Linked DNA regions of Homo sapiens: region 1 is linked to region 2. The links come from fine-mapping of genetic effects on gene expression. A gene starts in region 2. The other region holds a variant in brackets. All regions are shown on one strand. Distances are from middle to middle. Region 1 overlaps TBCK (TBC1 domain containing kinase). Region 2 holds the start of TBCK (TBC1 domain containing kinase).

What was found. PIP is the estimated chance that this variant, and not a neighbour inherited with it, causes the effect.
Region 1: its variant is the best candidate, but not a certain one, in a credible set for the expression of TBCK in whole blood (TOPMed, PIP 0.54).

The regions. Positions count from the first base shown.
Region 1 is chr4:106,285,785-106,293,784 of GRCh38, reverse strand. The region is part of intron 3 of TBCK (TBC1 domain containing kinase); the gene reads left to right. It overlaps LOC124900750 (a long non-coding RNA gene), which reads right to left. Exons shown (of 3, transcript XR_007058217.1): 2 at 7,723-7,904. Among named protein-coding and RNA genes, the nearest start is that of TBCK, 26 kb to the left of the region's middle. The variant G/A (reference allele first, on the strand shown) is at 3,388.
Region 2 is chr4:106,311,978-106,324,833 of GRCh38, reverse strand. TBCK (TBC1 domain containing kinase) reads left to right here and starts at 8,625. Exons shown (of 26, transcript NM_001163435.3): 1 at 8,625-8,903. AIMP1 (aminoacyl tRNA synthetase complex interacting multifunctional protein 1) reads right to left here and starts at 8,284. Exons shown (of 7, transcript NM_001142416.2): 1 at 8,240-8,284. RefSeq lists enhancers at 8,076-8,325, 8,816-8,875, 8,956-9,045.

The DNA of each region.
Region 1 (8,000 bases), 29 kb after region 2:
TACCACAATATTCTAGATGAAAAATCTTTTTCAAGGGAAGAAAAGCATTTATCTTAATAAATGGTAGTAATTTGATAGAAGCAAAACAAATAAATTGAATAAAAGTGCTATTATTGCTCCTTTAAATGATTTGGTTTTGGGTAGCCTCTAGAATGAAAAATGCAGATATCATGTATATACCAGCAGTCCCCAAACTTTTTGGCACCAGGGACTAGTTTTGTGGAAGACAGGTTTTCCATGGATGGAGGGTGGAGGGATGATTTTGGGATGATACAAGCGCATTACATTTACTGTGTACTTTATTTCTATTTTTATTATATTGTAATATATAATGAAGTAATTATATAACTCACCATAATGTAGAGTCAGTGGGATCCCTGAGCTTGCTTTCCTGCAACTAGAAGGTTCTATGTGGGGATGATGGGAGACAGTGACACCCAAAGTCTGTTGCTTATGTTCATTCTGCTCTGTAATCTCGTTTTGGTTGCTGTCACTGCAGAAAACCCTGCTTCACAAAGATAGGATGTTGGAAATGGAAGCAGGCTGAAAAGGAGTGATTTTGTGCCAATCTTGGGATATTCTGTCTTGACTTTAATCTAGAATGTATGGAGATTTGATATTGTCTAGTTGATCCTCTTCTAGCACAGATGAAGTCAATTCACCTGGTTTATTCACAAATGGGTTGCGGATCTATTCCTTCCCATTCAGGGGTCCTTTGTGGTTGGGAAGTAATGCTTAAACTCTTTTGAAAGCTGAGATAGGTGATCTGCACCAGTTGGGAGAAAGAAGGCCCTGGCTCAGCCTCTTTCAAAATCTCTGCTAATGTTTGAAACATGTCAGAAATCCCAGTGTTCACTTGCCACCCCCATAATTCCAGTTTGGCTTTGAATGCAGCCACTTTATCTGCGAACTTGAACAGAGTTGTTCTCTCCTGAAGTGACAGATTGAGTTTGTTGAGCAGGTTGAATATGTCACATAAGGAAGCAAGCTTTGTGACCTATTCTGTGTCACTGAAATGTGCTGCCAGTGGTGACTATTTTTCTAAAAGAAATCTCTGGAACAGCTCTCATAACTCAAAACTCTGGCCAGTGATCCACCTTTAGAAAGCCACCTACTTCTGTGTTTAAGAGAAGACGTGTATGCTCTGTGTCCATCTCCTCACAGAGCTGCATGAACAGATATGAGTTAAGGGCATGTACTTTTTTTTTTTTTTTTGAGATGGAGTCTTGCTCTGTCGCCCAGGCTGGAGTGCAGTGGCGTGATCTTGGCTCACTGCAAGCTCCTCCTCCCGGGTTCATGCCATTCTCCTGCCTCAGCCTTTTGAGTAGCTGGGACTACAGGCGCCCACCACCATGCCTTGCTAATTTTTTTATTTTTAATAGAGACAGGGTTTCACCGTGTTAGCCAGGATGATCTCGATCTCCTGACCTCATGATCCACGCACCTCAGCCTCCCAAAGTGCTGGGATTACAAGTGTCAGCCACCGCGCCCAGCCAAGGGCATATACTTTAATGAGGTTGATAATTTTAATCATATCCTGCAAAACGTTGTTAAGTTCAGGTGACATTTTTCAGGTAGCCGGCATTTCTGTATGGATGGCACAGTGCATAGACTCACATTTAGAAGCAACCTTTTTGACCTGAGAAGTGAAACCAGAAAGCCGTCCAGTCATGGTGGCCGCTGTGTCTGCATATACCGATGTAAAGTGACCAATTCAGTTTCTCTGATATTTAATCATTCAAAGACTTGAATAGTTCTGCAGCTTTGGTGTTTATTAGCAACAAAAGTGCACATAAATATCCTCATGCATATCCTCCTGAAAAATATATTGCACAAAAGCAAGCATTGTTGCATTGTTGTCAACATCGGTCAACTCATCAGTCTGAATTGTGTACCATGGTGACTCATTGATTCTAGCAATTGTGCCTCAATATCCTCTGTTATTTCATCAGTTTGTCTAGTTATGGTGCTAGTCGAAAGAGGAACACGTGCTACCTTTTGATCGGCATCCTCTCCTAAAATTTCATGACAGATGTCTTTAGCAGCAGGCAGGATCAAATCTTCACCGATAGTAAAGGGCTTCTTAGCTTTAGCTATGTAGTTAGTCGCTAAGAATGATGCTCTTAGTGTCAACACGTTTGATGAAGTGGTGGCTTTCAGTAATTACTTCAGTTCTTCGTGTTCATGTTTTTTTCTTTTGAAAAACTGCGAAGACTTGTCTTTTAATCAGTCTGCTTGGTCTCCATGTGACAAAGCAGTTTTGAAGGTTTTATGGCTTCATTGGATAGCTGGTCGCCACATAGCATACAAAGCATACTTGGAGAATGTGAATCATCTGTTACAATGAACCTATAATTTAAGTAGGACTGTTGGTATTTTCTTTTAAATGAAGCTTTCTTTTTGTTGGCAGTCTTAGAGTCTTCTGCTGTCTCATCATGGGGTCTTTCCCCCTTTTTAAAGAAGGTCTCCAGTGATGTTTGGTTTTTACTCATTGTGACTAGGGGTTAGCTTGTAGGCTTATCAAAACTGTGACCAAGACAAGTGTGCAGTGTGGGAAGGAGGTGCAGATGGAAGAGGTAAATAAAATAATAGGCAGGCCACGTGCAGACTAAAATAAATGTTGCATTTTGACTTAAAGCCTGCCACCAGATGCAGCTGTACACTTGAAGTACATCAACTCACTTGCCACTCAAAAGCCTACCACCAGATACAGCTTAATTGTCACTTGCCTCTCACTGATAGGGTTTTGATGAGTCTGCAAGTAATTGATTTATTATGGTCTCTGTGCAGTCAAACCTCTCTATTAATGTTAATCTGTATATGCAGCCACTCCCCAGCGCTAGCATCACTGCCTCAGCTCCACCTCAGATGATCAGGCGTTAGATTCTTATAAGGAGCCCGCAACCCTGATCACTCGCATGCATGGTTCACAGTAGGGTTCGTGCTCCTATGAGAATCAGTGCTGCTGCTGATCTGACAGGAGGCAGAGAGCTCAGGTGGTAATGTAGCGATGGGGAGCAACTGTAAATACAGATGGAGCTTTGCTGGCTTGCCTGCTGCACACCTCTTGCTGCGCAGTCCTAGGTACAGGGTCCAGGACTAGTCCATGGTGGGGGGGTTGGGAACCCCTGTTGTACACTATAGCCTTACATCCTTCCTTAGAAAAGTCTAATCTGACTATAGGTAAGAAAAATAACTTTTATATGTATTTAGAAATAGTTTAACCTTATTTAGTAAATGTGTTTTTATAGTTATAATTTTTGTAATGTCACTAATCTTTGATTTTTATTTAAAAGAATATATTATTCCGGCCGGGTGTGGTGGCTCATGCCTGTAATCCCAGCACTTTGGGAGGCCAAGGTGGGCGGATCACGAGGTCAGGAGATC[G/A]AGACCATCTGGCTAACATGGTGAAACCCTGTCTCTACTAAAAATACAAAAAATTAACCAGGCGTGGTGGCAGGCGCCTGTAGTCCCAGCTACCCAGGAGGCTGAGGCAGGAGAATGGCGTGAACCCGGGAGGCGGAGATTGCAGTGAGCCGAGATCACGCCACTGCACTCCAGCCTGGGCAACAGAGTGAAACTCCATCTCTAAATAAATAAATAAATAAAATAATATATTATTCCTTGCTCACTAGTTCAAATTTACAGTCTCCTGCTGCTAAAAAGCAATTTTCTTTAAAAGCTAGTTGACATTAAAATTGAAAACCAATTATGCCCACAACTTTAGGTAAGAAAAAATATTTTAGTTGAGCCTGGGTTAAATTTGTGTAAAGATTTACAATGCAATATGTATGATGAAAATATGCATTTACAATGCAATATGTGTGATGCAATATGCCCTAACTAGTTAGGCATCCTTGGACAAGTCTCTTAATCATTTTCCTTATCTGTAAAACAAGGAGTTTTACTGATTGAGAGATCATTGTAGCACAAGTTATTCTTAACTTAATGTTTTATTTAATATGCATCATATCTGATAATACATCAATCGTCTTTTTTTTTTTCTTTTTTTTTTTTGAGACAGAGTCTCGCTCTGTCACCCAGGCTGGAGTGCAGTGGCATGATCTCGGCTCACTGCAACCTCTGCCTCCCGGGTTCAAGTGATTCTTCTGTCTCAGCCTCCTGAGCAGCTGGGACTACAGGCATGCCCACCATGCCTGGGTAATTTTTGTATTTTTAGTAGAGATGGGGTTTCACCATATTGGCCAGGCTGGTCTCGAACTCCTGACCTCATGATCTGCCCGCCTCAGCCTCTCAAAGTGCTGGGATTACAGGCATGAGCCACCGCGCCTGGCTGATCAATTGTCTTCATAAATATAATTTGTTATATTTTTATAGACTAATATGTTAACCTACTATTGCTCTTTGTTTAAATGGTAGATTTCTTGACAGAAGAACCTATGGCAAGTCTACATTTAAAATTTCAATGCTATAAAAAAGGCTAAATTATTAATAGAAACATCTATTTTATGATCCAGCAATTCCAGTCCTAGTTATAAGGCCTCCTTAAATTTTGTACTGTAGTACTTCATTTGCCTCACTCTAGTCCCAGCTCTGTCTAGGTATTTATCCAAGAGAACAGAAAAATACATGTCCACCTATGCAAAAAGATTTGCACTAGAATATTCCCAGAAACATTCTTCATTATAGCTCTAAACTGGGTAGAACTCAAATGTCCATGGACAGGAGAATGCATAAACATGGTACAGATTGATAATTCTTTATCCATAATGTTTGGGACCAGAAGTGTTTCGGATTTGGGATTTGTTTTTCCCAGATTTTGGAGTATTTGCATTTACATAGTGAGCTATGTTGTAGATGGGACTTAAGTGTAAACACGAACTTCATTTATGTTTGAATGATAGCTTATACACATAGCCTGGGTGTAATTTTATGTAATACTTTAAATAATTTTGTGCATGAAGCAAAGTTTACACTAAATACTTATGTGTGGAATTTTCTACTTGTGGTATCATATTGTTGCCCAAAAAATTTTGGATTTTGGAACATTTTGGATTGCAGATTTTCAGATTAGGGATGCTCAACCTGTTAATCAACAATGAAAAAGAAAGAGCTACTGGTACCCACAACATGTGGATTAACCTTATAAATATTACGCTGAGCAAAAGAAGCCAGACATAGAAGATTATCGGTATTTATCTTCGGTGATAGAAAAACAGTGCTTTATTCTGTTAGAGAGTAAGGGGTAATTCAAGAACTGATTCAAAATGGCCTTGAGGGAACTTTTTAAGGGGATGAACATTTTTGTATCTTGATCAGATATTACCTATATGGTGTATGTGTGTCATAACTAAATGAAATATGCACTGAAAATGTATAATATATGCATTTTACCTATGTAAATTATACCTTAATTTAATTTTTTTTTTTGAGACGGAGTCTCGCTTTGTCGCCCCGGCTGGAGTGCGGTGGTACGATCTCAGCTCACTGCAAGCTTCACCTCCCAGGTTCAAGTGATTCTCCTGTCTCAGCCTCCTGAGTAGCTGGGACTACAGGCATACACCGCCATGCCTGGCTAATTTTTTGTATTTTAGTACAGACAGGGTTGCACCGTGTTGCCCAGGCTGGTCGCGAACTCCTGAGCTCAGGCAGTCTGCCTGCCTCGGCCTCCCAGAGTTCTGGGATTGCATACCTTAATTTTTTTTTTTTTTTTTTTTAAGAAAGGGTTGTTGAGTTATTCACTTGGCTTGAGTTCTCAATCCCTCATAGAGAAACAGTATTGTGTTGTTAATGAAGATGTTTGAGCCACTGACTTTTTTAATTTTTTGGTTTTTAGAAGAAAGAGTATGAATTAGTTATTGCTTAACAAGTTACCTCAACACTTTGTGGCTTAAAACAACAATAAAAATTTATTAACTCATATAATTCCTTTGGATCAGAACATAGGAATAGCATAACTAGATGGTTCTAGCTCAAGGTCTCACAAGATTTCAGTCAAGATAACAGCTGGACCTCCAGTCATCTGTTATAAAAGCTTTTCTGGAGTTGGGTGATCTGTTTCTAAGATGGTTTACTTATAAAGAAGGTGCTAGTTGTTGACAAGAGGCTTAATTCTTTTCTACATTGAGGGCCTTTCCACAGGCCTCTTGACATGCTCAAAGCATGGTGGTTGGCTTCTCTCAGAGTGAACAATCTAAGGAAAGAAAACAAGGTGGAAGCTACAGTGGCTTTGGTAACCTAGTGTCAACAAACACACACTGTTATTCCTGCAATGCAATATCCTGTTAGTTTACACAGGTCAGCCATTAACTGTATTCTGTGTTGGAGAGGATTGCTCAAGAATGCACATGTGAATTTCATGAGTCATGGCTCATTGGGGGCCATCCTGGAGGCTGACTACCACAAATGTCTTAGAGACCATACAAATACTTTTGAAAAAACACTCCTACAAAACAGGAGTGACATGCTAAATCAATATTAATGCTAACTGAAAAATATCTGGAATTCTTAAAATTATTCATATTTGTTTAAAGTATTTGGGGTAGAAAAAAGAAAGGATTATACACTAAGAATAGGGGGTAGAGTATTAAGGGAATATCCAGAAGTCCCACAGGTGAAATAGGGTCTTTATGGACATAGCTATGATCAGAATTGCTATACATCCTGAAAATTGATGTTATCCATGGTCTTGTGCTCCCAAAAGTTCCAGAACACCCCGAAGTTCCAGAGGACCCCATAAGCCACAAAGAGAGCAGTCCTCTGGTCATCAGTATGGTAGTCTCTTATCTCCACATTTCCCCCTCTGCCTGTATATGGTCCTTCTTTTACTTGGTAAAGGAACTGAGGCGAAAGAAGTTGGTGATTCAAAAGATAAATTTCCGTTTTCATTGTTTTACCTCAACTCTATTCCACCCCCACCCCTCCTGCCTTTTTGTTTTTTTGAGACAGGTTCTCGCTTTGTCACCCAGGCTGCTGGAGTGCAGTAGTGCGATCACTGCTTACTGTGATCGCTGCTTACTGTAGCCTTGACCTCGCTTACTGTGATCGCTGCTTACTGTAGCCTTGACCTCCTGGGCTCAAGCGATCCTTCCACCTCAACCACCCTAGTACCTGGGACCACAGGTGTGCATCACCATACATGGCTATTTTTTTATTTTTTGTATATACAGGGGTCTCATTATGTTGCCTAGGCTGGTGTTGAACTCCTAGGCCCGAGTGATCTTCTTGCCTTAGCCTCCCAGGTGTTGGGATTACAGGCACAGGCATGAGCCACCATCCCCCAACCTTTTTTAAAAATGTTTTTGAACTTTGAATTGTATTATATAAGGATACAATCAATATTGCTTTGCCAGTATGATTAAATCATTAGCTCATGAAAAGTTTTGCATTTCTGTGCTTACCATTTTTTATCTTTGTTTGAAAGACGACAAATCTTGTGGCAATGAACATCAGTGGTTTCTTCAATGATTTTGCTTTTGTCTTCATGAGGATAAAATAGTGTAGATGGAAGCACATTCTTTGAGGATGTATATTAACATGAGTAGGATTAAATGCAAAATTTACATGATCTTTTATGCCAGTTACATTTTCTTTTTTCTTTTAAATAGAACATATAGTAGCCTTAACAGGTCTTTCCATTTTTTCCATTGAGATGTATTTAAGCATTTGTGTAAATAAAGTACTATTTTTAAATTATTCTGATAATAGACTAAAAGTCAGTGTTTTCTTTGTACATTTTGGAATATAACATTCAGTACTTACTGCCTTTTAGTAGGAATGATCCTTTTAGGTTCAGTTCCAAGTTGTTATCTGATCCATCCATCTAAATTAATTTTGCTGAGAACTATTTGACTTTTCCACATATTTGGATTACATTAGTCTCCAGTAACAGAGCAGGTATATGTGTAGAGTTGATGTACTGCAATTTTAATCAATTTTATAACCTGTTTATAGAAAGTGAGAAGATGTTCTTAAGGTTTATAAATTAGTTCTTTCCTTTACTACCAAAAGTAAGCACCTGCACCTGCAAGAAGGGCTGA
Region 2 (12,856 bases):
CCAAACAAATAGCAGAAATGTTAAGTAGACTAATTCCTGAATCTACTTAGAAGAGGAAATATAGTTTGTTCTTAAATGCAGAAAACAGGCTATTTAGCCACATTTAAGGTTGAAAGCTTTCAAAGAAAGCTTCAGGTACACTAAGAGATAAGAATAACAATAACCGTAACTATGCTAATGAGTATTACATCTGTGTTCCAAAGTAAAGAGTTGCTGATTTCATTCCTTTTATATTTCTGTATACTGGATCCTTCTACTGTGTATTCACTTAGGTACAATTTTCAAGAAGAAAACGTCAATTAGGAAAGATAAATATTAAAAGAAAAAATCAACAATTAAGAAAATATTAATCATATGCTTGTTCAGATATAATGTCAGTATATACCGTTGTCTTTATTTTAAAAATTAGAATTTTAGTTTTATAATAAATTCAGAGAAATTTAAAAAAATACTATCAAGGTACAGAAAAATGTATGTAAGCAAACATTCTGAGATTAATTCACCATGTTAAAATTTAAACTGCCACATACTAAGAAAAATAATCACACTGACAATGGAGAGGTTAATCATTAGTAATACTATGAACTGTTCTTTTCTACCTGATTTAACAAGAATTTATAATTCAAGGTATAACAATGATACAAGTATTGCTGAAATAATTCTAACTTTAAATAAATGAAGCAGTACTCAATATTAATGGTGAAATTTTGAATAAAAACTAGATAATAGACACGTAACAGATTGTTTGAAAATTTCAAATTATTATATAATACCAATCCTATATAAAAAATATTCTGAAAAGCCACAATACACTGGCTGGTATTTATTTTTGAGGTGACTGTCTAGATCTGTTGGCTCATTTTTGAGCATCAGTCTATACTTAAATCTACTTGTTTCATATTAGCTGATACTAGTTTTCTAGTTTTTCTCTTAATTTTGAAATTTGAATAAGATGATTTGAGCCATATCTTTTCAAAATGTATTTTTCTAAAATGCACCAATTCATTCATTTTAGTATTATTCATCAAATATGTCTTTGCTAGAGATGTAAAACTTGCCAATTCTGCCTAATCAGATACTCATTATTGTTTGTGATAGCTACATTTTACCTATTGAGTATATTTCATCATTACTTATGTTAGACTAAAATAAAAAGACATCAAAAACTAAAGAAATGCTGTACTCAGGATACTAAAATTCAGAAGAGCATAGTTTTTTTTTTTTTTTTACTTTAACTTTCTTCATATATCCATTTCTATTAAGATATTTTCTCTACAATTCTGGCTTTGCAAACGTTTAAGTAACAACATGGTATTCTGTGTTCATTTTGGTAAAAATAGCAGAGTTTAAAGGTGGTATCTTCATTTGAATTTTTGTGCTCTTTTGGTCTGTATTTTTCTAAACTGTTAAAATAATAGTCCATAAAGAATAATGCTCATAAATAAGCCAACAGTTCTAGACAGTCCTTCAAAAATAAATACCCACCAAGTTGCTGAAAAATCAAAAAAAGAAACTCATGTTCTGACTCATACAGAAACATATAAAAAATCTTCTAAGAATAACAGTAATTTTGAAAATAGAGATAATAAATCCTAGCCTAAGAGAAAAAAATACAATTTTACTGAGTTGATAAATCTGTTAACTATTTGCAAAATATAAGTGGAATAGTTAGTTACATAAAATATGACTTTTATAATACATATTGAAGAACAAGCATAAGTTTAGGAAAGAGAATGTCATGTTTCAAAATACAGAAATACAAATGAACTAAACACTAAATACACATATGCAACTACTAAAAGGAAACAATGTGATAAAAAGAAGTGATAAAACTTTTTTTTTTTTTTTTTGAGACAGAGTCTTCCTTTTTCACCCAGGCTGGGGTGCAGTGGCACGATCTTGGCTCACTGCAACCTCCGTCTCCTGGGTTCAAGCGATTCTCCTGCCTTAGCCTCCCAAATAGCCGGGATTACAGGTGCCTGCCACCTGACTAATTTTTGAATTTTTAGTAGAGATGGGGTTTCACCATGTTGGCCAGGCTGGTCTCGAAATCCTGACCTCCCTCAACTGATCTGCCCACCTCGGCTTCCCAAGGTGCTGGGATTACAGGTGTGAGCCATTGCACTGGCGCCCAGACTCTACTTCTTCTCCAGTCCTAGATAACTGGGTATCTGGAAATATTATTCATGATGCCAATGTTAAAAAGTCTCATCTTGTGAAATCTAAAAATATTTCACTTCTAGTTACGTCTGTGTGTTAACAGAACTGTGCTCAAGTGCTAAAAGCCATTTGCTGTCTTTAGAACAGAAGCTCTGGAAACAGGTTTTCTAATACTTGTTGATTAATTATCATTTAAATTTTTTAAAAATATAGGTTGGATGCATAAGTTTATGTTAATGTTTTCTAGTAACATGCAGATAATGATCACTAGCACTGGCAGAGGAACATGGGTATATATACCCTTGGGCTTGCTTATATATACTTAGACTGTGTGACCTTGGTAAAGTTATCTAAATTTTCTATACTTTTTTTTTTTAATTTTTTTTAGTATTTATTGATCATTCTTGGGTGTTTCTTGGAGAGGGGGATTTGGGAGGGTCATAGGACAATAGTGGAGGGAAGGTCAGCAGATAAACATATGAACAAAGGTCTCTGGTTTTCCTAGGCAGAGGGCCCTGCCGCCTTCTGCAGTGTTTGTCCCTGGGTACTTGAGATTAGGGAGTGGTGATAACTCTTAAGGAGCATGCTGCCTTCAAGCATCTGTTTAACAAAGCACATCTTGCACCGCCCTTAATCCATTTAACCCTTAGTGGACACAGCACGTTTCAGAGAGCACGGGCCATTTAACCCTTAGCGGACACAGCACATGTTTCAGAGAGCAGGGGCCATTTAACCCTTAGTGGACACAGCACATGTTTCAGAGAGCACGGGGTTGGGGGTAAGGTTATAGATTAACAGCATCCCAAGGCAGAAGAATTTTTCTTAGTACAGAACAAAATGGAGTCTCCTATGTCTACTTCTTTCCACACAGACACAGTAACAATCTGATCTCTCTTTCTTTTCCCCACATTTCCCCCTTTTCTATTCGACAAAACTGCCATCGTCATCATGGCCCGTTCTCAATGAGCTGTTGGGTACACCTCCCAGACGGGGTGGCGGCCGGGCAGAGGGGCTCCTCACTTCCCAGATGGGGCGGCCGGGCAGAGGCGCCCTCCACCTCCCAGACGGGGCGCCGGCCGGGCGGGGGCTGCCCCCCACCTCCCGGACGGGGCCGCTGCCGGGCGGAAAGCGGAAACGCTCCTCACTTCCCAGACGGGGCGGCTGCCGGGCGGAGGGGCTCCTCACTTCTCAGACCGGGCAGCCGGTCAGAGACGCTCCTCACCTCCCAGACGGGGTGGCGGCGGGGCAGAGACACTCCTCAGTTCCCAGACAGGGTCGCGGCCGGGCAGAGGCGCTCTTCACATCTCAGACGGGGCGACGGGGCAGAGATGCTCCCCACATCCCAGATGATGGGCGGCTGGGCAGAGACGCTCCTCACTTCCTAGACAGGATGACGGCCGGGAAGAGGTGCTCCTCACTTCCCAGACTGGGCGGCCGGGCAGAGGGGCTCCTCACATCCCCGACGATGGGCGGCCAGGCAAAGACGCTCCTCACTTCCTAGACGGGGTGGCGGCCGGGCAGAGGCTGCAATCTCGGCACTTTGGGAGGCCAAGGCAGGCGGCTGGGAGGTGGAGGTTGTAGCGAGCCAAGATCACGCCACTGCACTCCAGCATGGGCAACATTGAGCACTGAGTGAGCGAGACTCCGTCTGCAATCCCGGCACCTCAGGACGCCGAGGCTGGCAGATCACTCGCGGTCAGGAGCTGGAGACCAGCCCGGCCAACACGGTGAAACCCCGTCTCCACCAAAAAATACAAAAACCAGTCAGGAGTGGCGGCGCGCACCTGCAATCCCAGGAACTCGGCAGACTGAGGCAGGAGAATCAGGCAGGGAGGTTGCAGTGAGTCAAGATGGTGGCAGTACAGTCCAGCCTCGGCTCGGCATCAGAGGGAGACGGTGCGGAGAGGGAGAGGGAGAGGGAGAGGGCTATACTTTTCTTAATTTAAAAAATTACTTGTACCTGATTTCACCTCCTACTTCCTTGTCACCTCCTTTCAGGGCTCCTTTTTTTTTTAATCTGTCCCATTAATGATGCTGTTCTTCAGGGTTTGGTCTTAATCACTAATCTTTTCTAGGGATCACAAACTAGCCTGACAAAGTTCAGGGATAGCTTTCTTTTCCAGGGCTAACAGTGTTGGAAATAACTGATGTGAATGTCTTTAAGTAAGACAGACAGACACTTTACTACTCCCTGTTGTCTGCCATTTATATTACCTACCAGGCTCCTAAAATAAGTTCATGACCCCAACTTTACACTCCCTGATTTTGTGTCATGTGCTGGGTTTATAGTAGAGAACAAAAATAAACATGTTCTTTGAACTAACTAAGCTTTCAGACAAATGGGGGAAACACAGTTGAAGACATTTTTAAAATAATGTTACGCTTAGGGCACAGTGATAGTTTAACAACAATACTGCTTAAAGCTCAAACAAATCTTTTACCATTCAACCCAGTGCTCATTTCATTAATCTCTATGCTAATTACTCCCCTGTGATTTTTCAATTTTACATTGAGTATAAGTCAACCTTCAAAATTTTAAATCCTCAGAGTTTCTAATATGTATAAAGTTTCTCATAGATGATAATAACAACTACATATATTTGTAGAACATGCGCTATGGCTGGCTAAATGCTTTACACAAGTCAATTTCGAATACTGTAATAATCTCCATTATACAGAGAAGAAAACTTGAATTAAAATTAATTTGCCTCATGTAATACATAGTAAACGAGGATTGAAACTCAGGTCTGTCTGATGCTGCAGTTAGCTCTTTTAATGCTCTAGCTATAATTTCTCTAAAGGATATAATTACGAAGCATTTTCCAATATATTTAATGACAGAATCCTAACACAGGAACAGCTATTAACATTTATTTGAACTAGTATTCTCTAAAACAGTTTAGGAAATGCTAGTTTAAGTCTCTGGACTAAAATGTAAAAAAATTAAGACTGTGAGATTAAAATAGATATAAGAATGACATGCACAGTAATTGAAAATATAAAACATTTATGAAGAGAGAAGCACAGAAAACTGTAGACCAAGTATGTTAATTGTGTTTGGTGAGGATCAAGACCTTTTCTTTTTCCTTTACTAAATTAAAATGGTAATAATGCATTTTTTAGGACAAAAGCTTTTGAAACATATTATCTAAATCATTCTGTCCCTTCACATTAATTTTGTCCTTCTCAATGTTAATTATCATACTTCATCAAACCTAAAAAGCCATTAATCATACGATGCCTCTAATGCAGAATCCCAAATACTGTACATGAATTTATAGTACATCTTAATCATTAAAATACACACACAAAAGATGATTTTTGAGATTCTGAGATCTTCACTATCATTTTTGTTTACTGAGCAATTTCCTCAGTAGTCCTCCCCACCCACACCATCTAAATTGCCTGCAATCTTTTTGAAAAAGCAAAATCTCTGCCCCACGATGACAACATTGGGAATCAAACATAAGTAAGTTACTACTTTGAAATCAAAGTTTTACAGGCAGACTTTTAATTTTAGAATTCTTATGCTATATAGGAACGCTACACAAATTTGAAAGTGTCTCTACTCAAAACCTCTAATTTCCCTATTTCAGAATTACAGTAGGTAAAAATTTACATTTTTGTTGGAAGCTTTAAATACTATACAAGAAATCTAAAATGCCATCAATTGTAAAATGGCTTCAATCCCAAGAAGCTCTATTATTTTATGTACATTATGAAAAAAAACACTATTGAATCAACTGACCCAATGCTTTCTTATTACTTAGACACATCCTATATTATTTATTGACAGACTTCTTTTAAATTTAACCCTGGATTTTTATCTTGTATCACCCTTTGTTTCCCCACATACACAGTAACTTTTCATTCTAATGCTAATCATAATCTTCTAAATGATCTTTAAAAGGGAAATTACACTCAACAACTATATGCCAATAGTGCATATATAACTCAACTGAAATAATGACAAGATTAAGTTATGACTAAGTGGGTGTAAGTGTGGGCAATGACAAATATCTCACAACTGCCAATTCATCTACAGTGATTTAAAGATGTCAACAACTTAAAAATACATCCCTATTTCAGAGATGTTAAGTAAGAGAAAAATGTGTATCTCAGAATTGATGGAATATAGTAATTTTAATCATTTTCTTCCTTTCTTCTCCTCCCTTCATTCCTATTCTTGCCTTCCAACTTCTTTCCCTGATTTGCTACACAATCTAATTACTGGATATGTAAAAATATTATAGTATACATAAAATACCCCACACTGAAAGACCGTCCTTATTATAGTGTAAAGCAATGTGGTACCTTTTAGCACTAGGTGAAAATTCCTGCTAGGATTTAAATCATATGTGTCAAAAGTCAGAATTTAAAGAAGAAAATTAAATACACTGAGAACAATGCATCTGAAGACACTCAAAATATGTAAGCGCAGCAACCAGCAGTAATTCCCTAGGTCTTTTATCAACCTTTGCCAAAACCTATAAAAAGAATATCTAAAATTGCTTTTTTATGGAAGTTCCTATTTCCCTTACCAGACAGCCTGCTTTCCCTTTACTGATGAGGACATAGGGGGTCCTGGAGGGTTTAAAGGATGGCTATAAGGAATGACTATAGGGTGGACAGCTATGAGAGGCCAGTCCATGCATTTCTAAATACCATCGTCATTAACACAAAAACTTTCCTCCCCAGTACAGAGTCCATAAAATTTAAAAAGGAGTATGCCTTGGCCTCCCATGACCCTCTTACCTCACAATAAGGCCATCTTTTACCTGGTTAAGATTTGCAGACTAGACCCATTACATACCTTGTCATTAAATACCTATAATATACCCTAACCTTTGCAATCTTGACAGATGTGATTTCCATTTTATAGACAGATCCAGGAAAATTACATGACTTATCTGAATCCCTTCAAGTACCACATAGCAAAGCCATGATTTTAACTTGTGTTTGCCACTCTGAAACTCACACTGGAATTCATTTTTCAAGTGTCCTCCAAAGCCTAATTAAATAAAATTAACCCTGTCATCTATAATACTCTTACATATCCAAATTAAGTGCATCAAGAATATAACTGGCCATTTCTTACCACCCATAGTCAAACCACCATTATGCTTCCTCTGGATTATTGCAAAACTCTTCTTATTGGTCTCCTTTCTCCTACCACGTCCTCCTCTGTGTATTTTCCTTAAAGAGTGACCCTCTTAAAAGGAAGTCAGAGCCCATCACTCTACTGCTCAAAACGCTCCAAAGTCCTATTTCATTTAGAATAAAAGTTAGATGTCCTCAAGATCTTCATGACCTGCTCGCCTTGATTTAATCTCCAGTGAAGGACTAAACCCTTCACTCAACTCTGCCCTACAGGCCTCCTTGCTATTCTAGCACGTTTCTGCTTCATGACCTCTGCAATGGCTGGTCCCTCTGTCTGACTGCACTTTCCCAAGATATTCGCGTGGTTAAATCTCCCACTTCTGTCAGCCCTTTACTTAAAAGTCATCTTTTCAGCAAGACCTTCCTGTGTCACTTTATACCCTTCTTCCCTGCTTTACGTTTCTCTTCAGGACTATCACGACCTAAAATACAGTATGTTTCTAATTACTTTGCTTAGTATGTGCCTTCCTCTCTAAAATGTGAGCTACAAGTAGACACAGATTTCCGTCTGTTTTGTTCACTGCTGTTCACCTAATGCCTAGAACGGTGTCTGGAATAGAGTGGGCGCTTAATAACTATTCGCTCAATGAATAAATTCCTGTCTTCACCCTCCTCTCCCCCAAAGCACCTAAGTCCTTTGACACACACATTCACATAACAGTAAATACGCTTAGGGATCGATATTTTTCTGTAGCATTCTTAACTTAGGCCTGCATCCCATTTCTCAAACGTGGCTCCTTTAGAAGGAAGTCTCAAACTCTTTCCTGTTTCCTTAGGCCAGGGCTGGTCCTGCTGCGAACGGACTACCCATTAGCAGCGCAGGCCAGGTCCTCTCTCCTGGAGGCAAGTTAGAGAAGGAAGACCCCTACGATCGCAATCGGCGATCCCCGAGTGAGTGACCCGCCACGACGTCACTCACATGAAGCGGAGGACCACGGGTTCCGAGACAGCCACAGCAGGAAGCATGTAGGTCCAGCCACCCGCGTACTATAGCAGTGAGAAAGGACCCAATGAGGTGTCCTTGCTGAAAGCCTGAGTGTTCTACAGATTCAACCCTCAATTCTTTCTTCCTCTTCCTGTGCTCAGTCCCATTAACCTGCCATACCACGCTCCTCGTCTTCCATTCCCTCACCCAGTATTTTCAATCGACCCCCCCCGTCCCCCCGCACCTCTTTCTCTCTCGCTATATGTCCTTTCGTGGCCAGTTTGGGCAAGGGGAAGGACACCACAAGTCGGGGTCTTTCCTCAGCGTTGGGTCGCGGTGGCTGTGAGGGCGGAAGAAAAGGCCAGGCTGAGGGGAGGGTAGAGGGTGAAAAGCTCGGATCTGTGTTTGGGGAAGGCCAGGCTTGCGCTCCTCGCCGGGTTCCGCGAAGGTTAACCTTGGCTGACTTGGCTCGCGAGCAAAGGGCAGCGTCTGAGCTCCCGGCGTTCCAGGAGTGGCCTCTTTTGTAGGAGCACCTGAAATGCAGCGTCTGGTGCACTAAGCCGTAGCGGCAGCAGCAGCCACAGCGACAGCGCTGGGGCCCTGTGTAGAAGCTCCATCCCCCTTGTCTTTGTGCTTGCCTGCGTCCCCAGACTCAGAGGCAGGTATTTGGGTAATCCAGTTTTCCGTGTCGTAGTGGGTGGGGTCTGTGGGAGGTAGAGGACTATCAGGAGCAGTGAGTGGCCCCGCATGTCTTCAGAATAGATAGAGAACCGAGCTGTGGAGCCGCTTGCTGATAGGTACTGTCTCCATCCCTAGCTACAGCCCGCCTTTCCTGTAAATCAGGTTCACCTGAGTCGTTTGGGAACCGTAGGCTTAGTAATCGCTCTGTCACTGCCTCAAAGGAAGGCTAAAGGAGGTTAGAGAATCTAGAATCCGCCCCTCCATTACTCACCTTGGAGGCAGAATTTTGCTTTGGTTTGTTTCTGGCCCTCGAGGTTTAGTCAGTCGTCAAAGTGTAACACCCCCTTGAGCAGTAGGAGAAAGTGAAGCAGAGGAAGGAAGTTACTTGAGGATTGTCAGTGGCTGCTTTTCAAGGATCCCTGTCCTGGTTTCTATCTATTTGAGACAAAAATAACCTCTTGAGAGAATGTATATATAAAATAAATGAATTAGTATCATTTTCCTGTTGAAGAAATGTGAAATTTTATTCATGATAAAATCGGCGTCTTTTGCCCTATTTTTTACTTTCTTTCCCCATTCGAGTCGTTTAAAACTCTAAGTTCTTTGAGGGCACAGAGTCTGACTTGTTCATTATCCTTTGCCCACCAGCTGGAAAAACAACTGACTTAAAATAGGGGCTTCAAAATATTTGTTGAATGAATGAATTTTCAAGCCCAACTGCTTGCACTGCTGTTTCCCTCATCTAATCTCTCATCTCTACGTTTTTTTTCCCCCGGTAGTTTTCTTCCACTCACGAGGTGTAAGTGAATGTATGTGTGTGTATTTTTGTGTGTGAGCCTTTTTATGTACAACCATTTAAGAGGTAGTGGAAAAAGAACACTGATTATGCTAATTAGTGTTTTATCTTTTTCGATCATTGTGTTTTATTTGGTTATTTTATTTTCAGCTATGTGATGATAAAGACATCTGATTGAAAATAAAATGGTCGGGCGCGGTGGCTCACGCCTGTAGTCCTAGCACTTTGGGAGGTCGAGGCGGGTGGATCACCTGAGGTCAGGAGTTCAAGACCAGCCTGGCCAGGATGGTGAAACCCCGTCTCTACTAAAAATACAAAAATTAGCCGGGCGTGGTGGCGGGCGCCTGTAATCCCAGCCACTCTGGAGGCTGAGGCACAGAATCGCTTGAACCCGGGAGGTGGAAGGATGCAGTGAGCCGAGATCATGCCACTGCACTCCAGCCTTGATGACAGAGTGAGACTCTGTCTCAAAAAAAAAAAAAAAAAAAAAAAAAATCAAGTAGTATAGCGTAGTAGGATTGAATAATAAAGTGCAACTGTCTCACCTGTCCTACTCTCAGTACTGTTCTTCAAAGATAACCACTTTTAACCTTTTCTAATTTTAGGTCTGTAGGTTAAATAATAAGTTAAACTGTTAATTCTTTTTGTTGACTTCTTGAGATAGCCCTAAGTTGAACTGCTAATTCTTTTTCCGTTGACTTCTAGAAATAGCCCACACCATTCACAATCTCCTCTGAATTTTGGAAGAGTCATAATCATAATTTTTAGTTTTTGTATTGGTTACTTTATAATTCAAAATAATATACGTAAACTACTTTTTTCACATCAACTTTTGAAAATATATTTGACTCCTTGTTTGGTAAAACGAGAAAAGTAGTGATTCTACCTTTTTCTTTATCACTTCAGAAACTACATTTATGCCCACTTTCTCTTAGCTGGACATTTACTTGTACATTGTCAAAGTTAGTAATATATTTCTTAACTATAACATTTGCGCTTTATTCACGTGCCAAAAACCAATAAAAAAAATAAAATGTTTACAGTATTATGGCTTTATAGTTGTTACTTAGAGCAAGTCCAAGCTGTATGCTCTGATATGTTTTTTTCCCCAGAGTTTTAACTTCATGATCCCTGTGCCATACTAAGGAGATTATTTATGATATCAAGGTCAAATGGGTTTTTATTTCTTTCCTGCCAAGGGCAAAATATGCTGTAGTTGAGCATGCTTTATATTTTGGAGTATGTAATACATAGTTTTTAACCGTCCCCACTTTCTTAATTGCCTTTCTGCTTTCTCCTGGGGAATAGGTAGGTGGATGTGCTTTCTTCACTGAATCTTCTCATTCTTTGTATGATGCACATAGAAGCAAGCTTCCATTCCTCTGTTTGAAGATTTTCCCCTTAAAGCCCAATGGCTTTCTGTTTAATTTGAACAGATTGCATTCTAGTCCTTTTGTATTGCTCCTATCCTGGGCTTATATTCATTCTTGGGTAAATAACATTGTTTCTTAGCCCCTCATCTTCTGTTATTGGGCTTCCCCCTATTTCCCTGGAATATATCCTAAGGAAACTTGCTCACAAAAGGCAAGTGAAAGGTAATTTTATTTTTTAATGTTCGTATAGCTGTAAATTATAATTTGCTCTTATGACTGATAATTTGGCTGTATATAGAATCAAAAGTATTTTCCTTCAACTCTCAATCCTTCCATGTCTTCTAACTTTTTTTTTTTCCTTTTTTTTGAGCTGGAGTCTCACTGTGTTGCTCAGTCTGGTCTGAAACTCCTGACCTCACGTGATCCTCCCACCTCAGCCTCTCAAGTATCTGGGATCACAGGCACAAGCCACTGCACCAGGCTCTCTTCTGACTTTCATTATTGCTGATGAGAATGCCAGTCTCACTTTAACTTGTTGATAGCAGAATCAGTTTTTTCTGTCTGAAATGTTTACAATTTTCTAGTTACGTTTGATGCTTTGAAAATGTATAGCAGTGTTTATCTTCTCATAAGCTGTTTTATTTTGTGTGAGATAAAATTTGATACATATTAAAACACATTGATTTTAAGTGGCCAATTTAATGAGTTTTGATGCATGTACTCATCCATAAAACCACTACCACCACAATCGAGATAGAGAATATTTCTACCACTACAGAAAGTTCCTCTGTTTCTCTGCTTATTCAACCCCTCTCCCCCATCTACAGTACTATCTTCTGATTTTTTTATTAATACTATAGTTTAGAACTATAGTTCTGGAATTACATTTAAATGGAGTCATACAGTATGAACTCTTTTGTGTCTGCTTCTTTCATAAACTTTATGTTTTTGAGTATATCCATGTTTTGACATGTTTGTTCCATTTTTGTTAAATAGAATTTCATGGTACAAATATGTTAATTGATTCACTTATGGGACATTTGCATTGCTTCTGGTTTTTAGCTATTAAGAGTACAGTTCCTATGAACATACTCATACAGTGTTTTTTTTTATGGACAAATGTTTTCATTTTTCTTGGTTAAAGAGTGGAATTTCTGAGTCATAAGTTAGGGATATTTTTAACTTTAGAAAAGTTTTCCAAATATTTTCCAAAATTCTTTTGCCATTTTACGCTCCCACTAGCAATATAGCAAAGCTCCACTTCCACATTCTCAACACTTGTTACTGCCAGTCATTTAAATTTTAGCCATTGTAGAAGTTAAAGGTTTGTCATTGTGATTTTCATTTGCATTTCCCCCAATTAATGATATTAAGAACTTTTTCATGTGCTTATTATTTTCATGCCTTGTGTGAAAATATGTTTGTGACTTTTACCTATTTATGTATTGGCTTGTTTTATTATTGAATTGTGGTATTTCTTTATAGACTCCGAATACAGGTCAATTATATACAGACACACATATGTTTGATTTTAAAAGGTCATATATATACATAATGTCATATGTATATACAGACAGATGTAAATAATATTTCCCTTTAACTCGAATTTTTATTTTCTCAGGGGTGCCTTTGGATATGCAGATGTTTTTAATTTTGATGAAGTCTACTTTGTCAAAATTGTCTTTTGTGGCTAGTGCTTTGTTCTATTGTGTCTAAGAAATCTTTGCCTAGCCTAAGGTTGTAAAGATATTCGCTTATGTT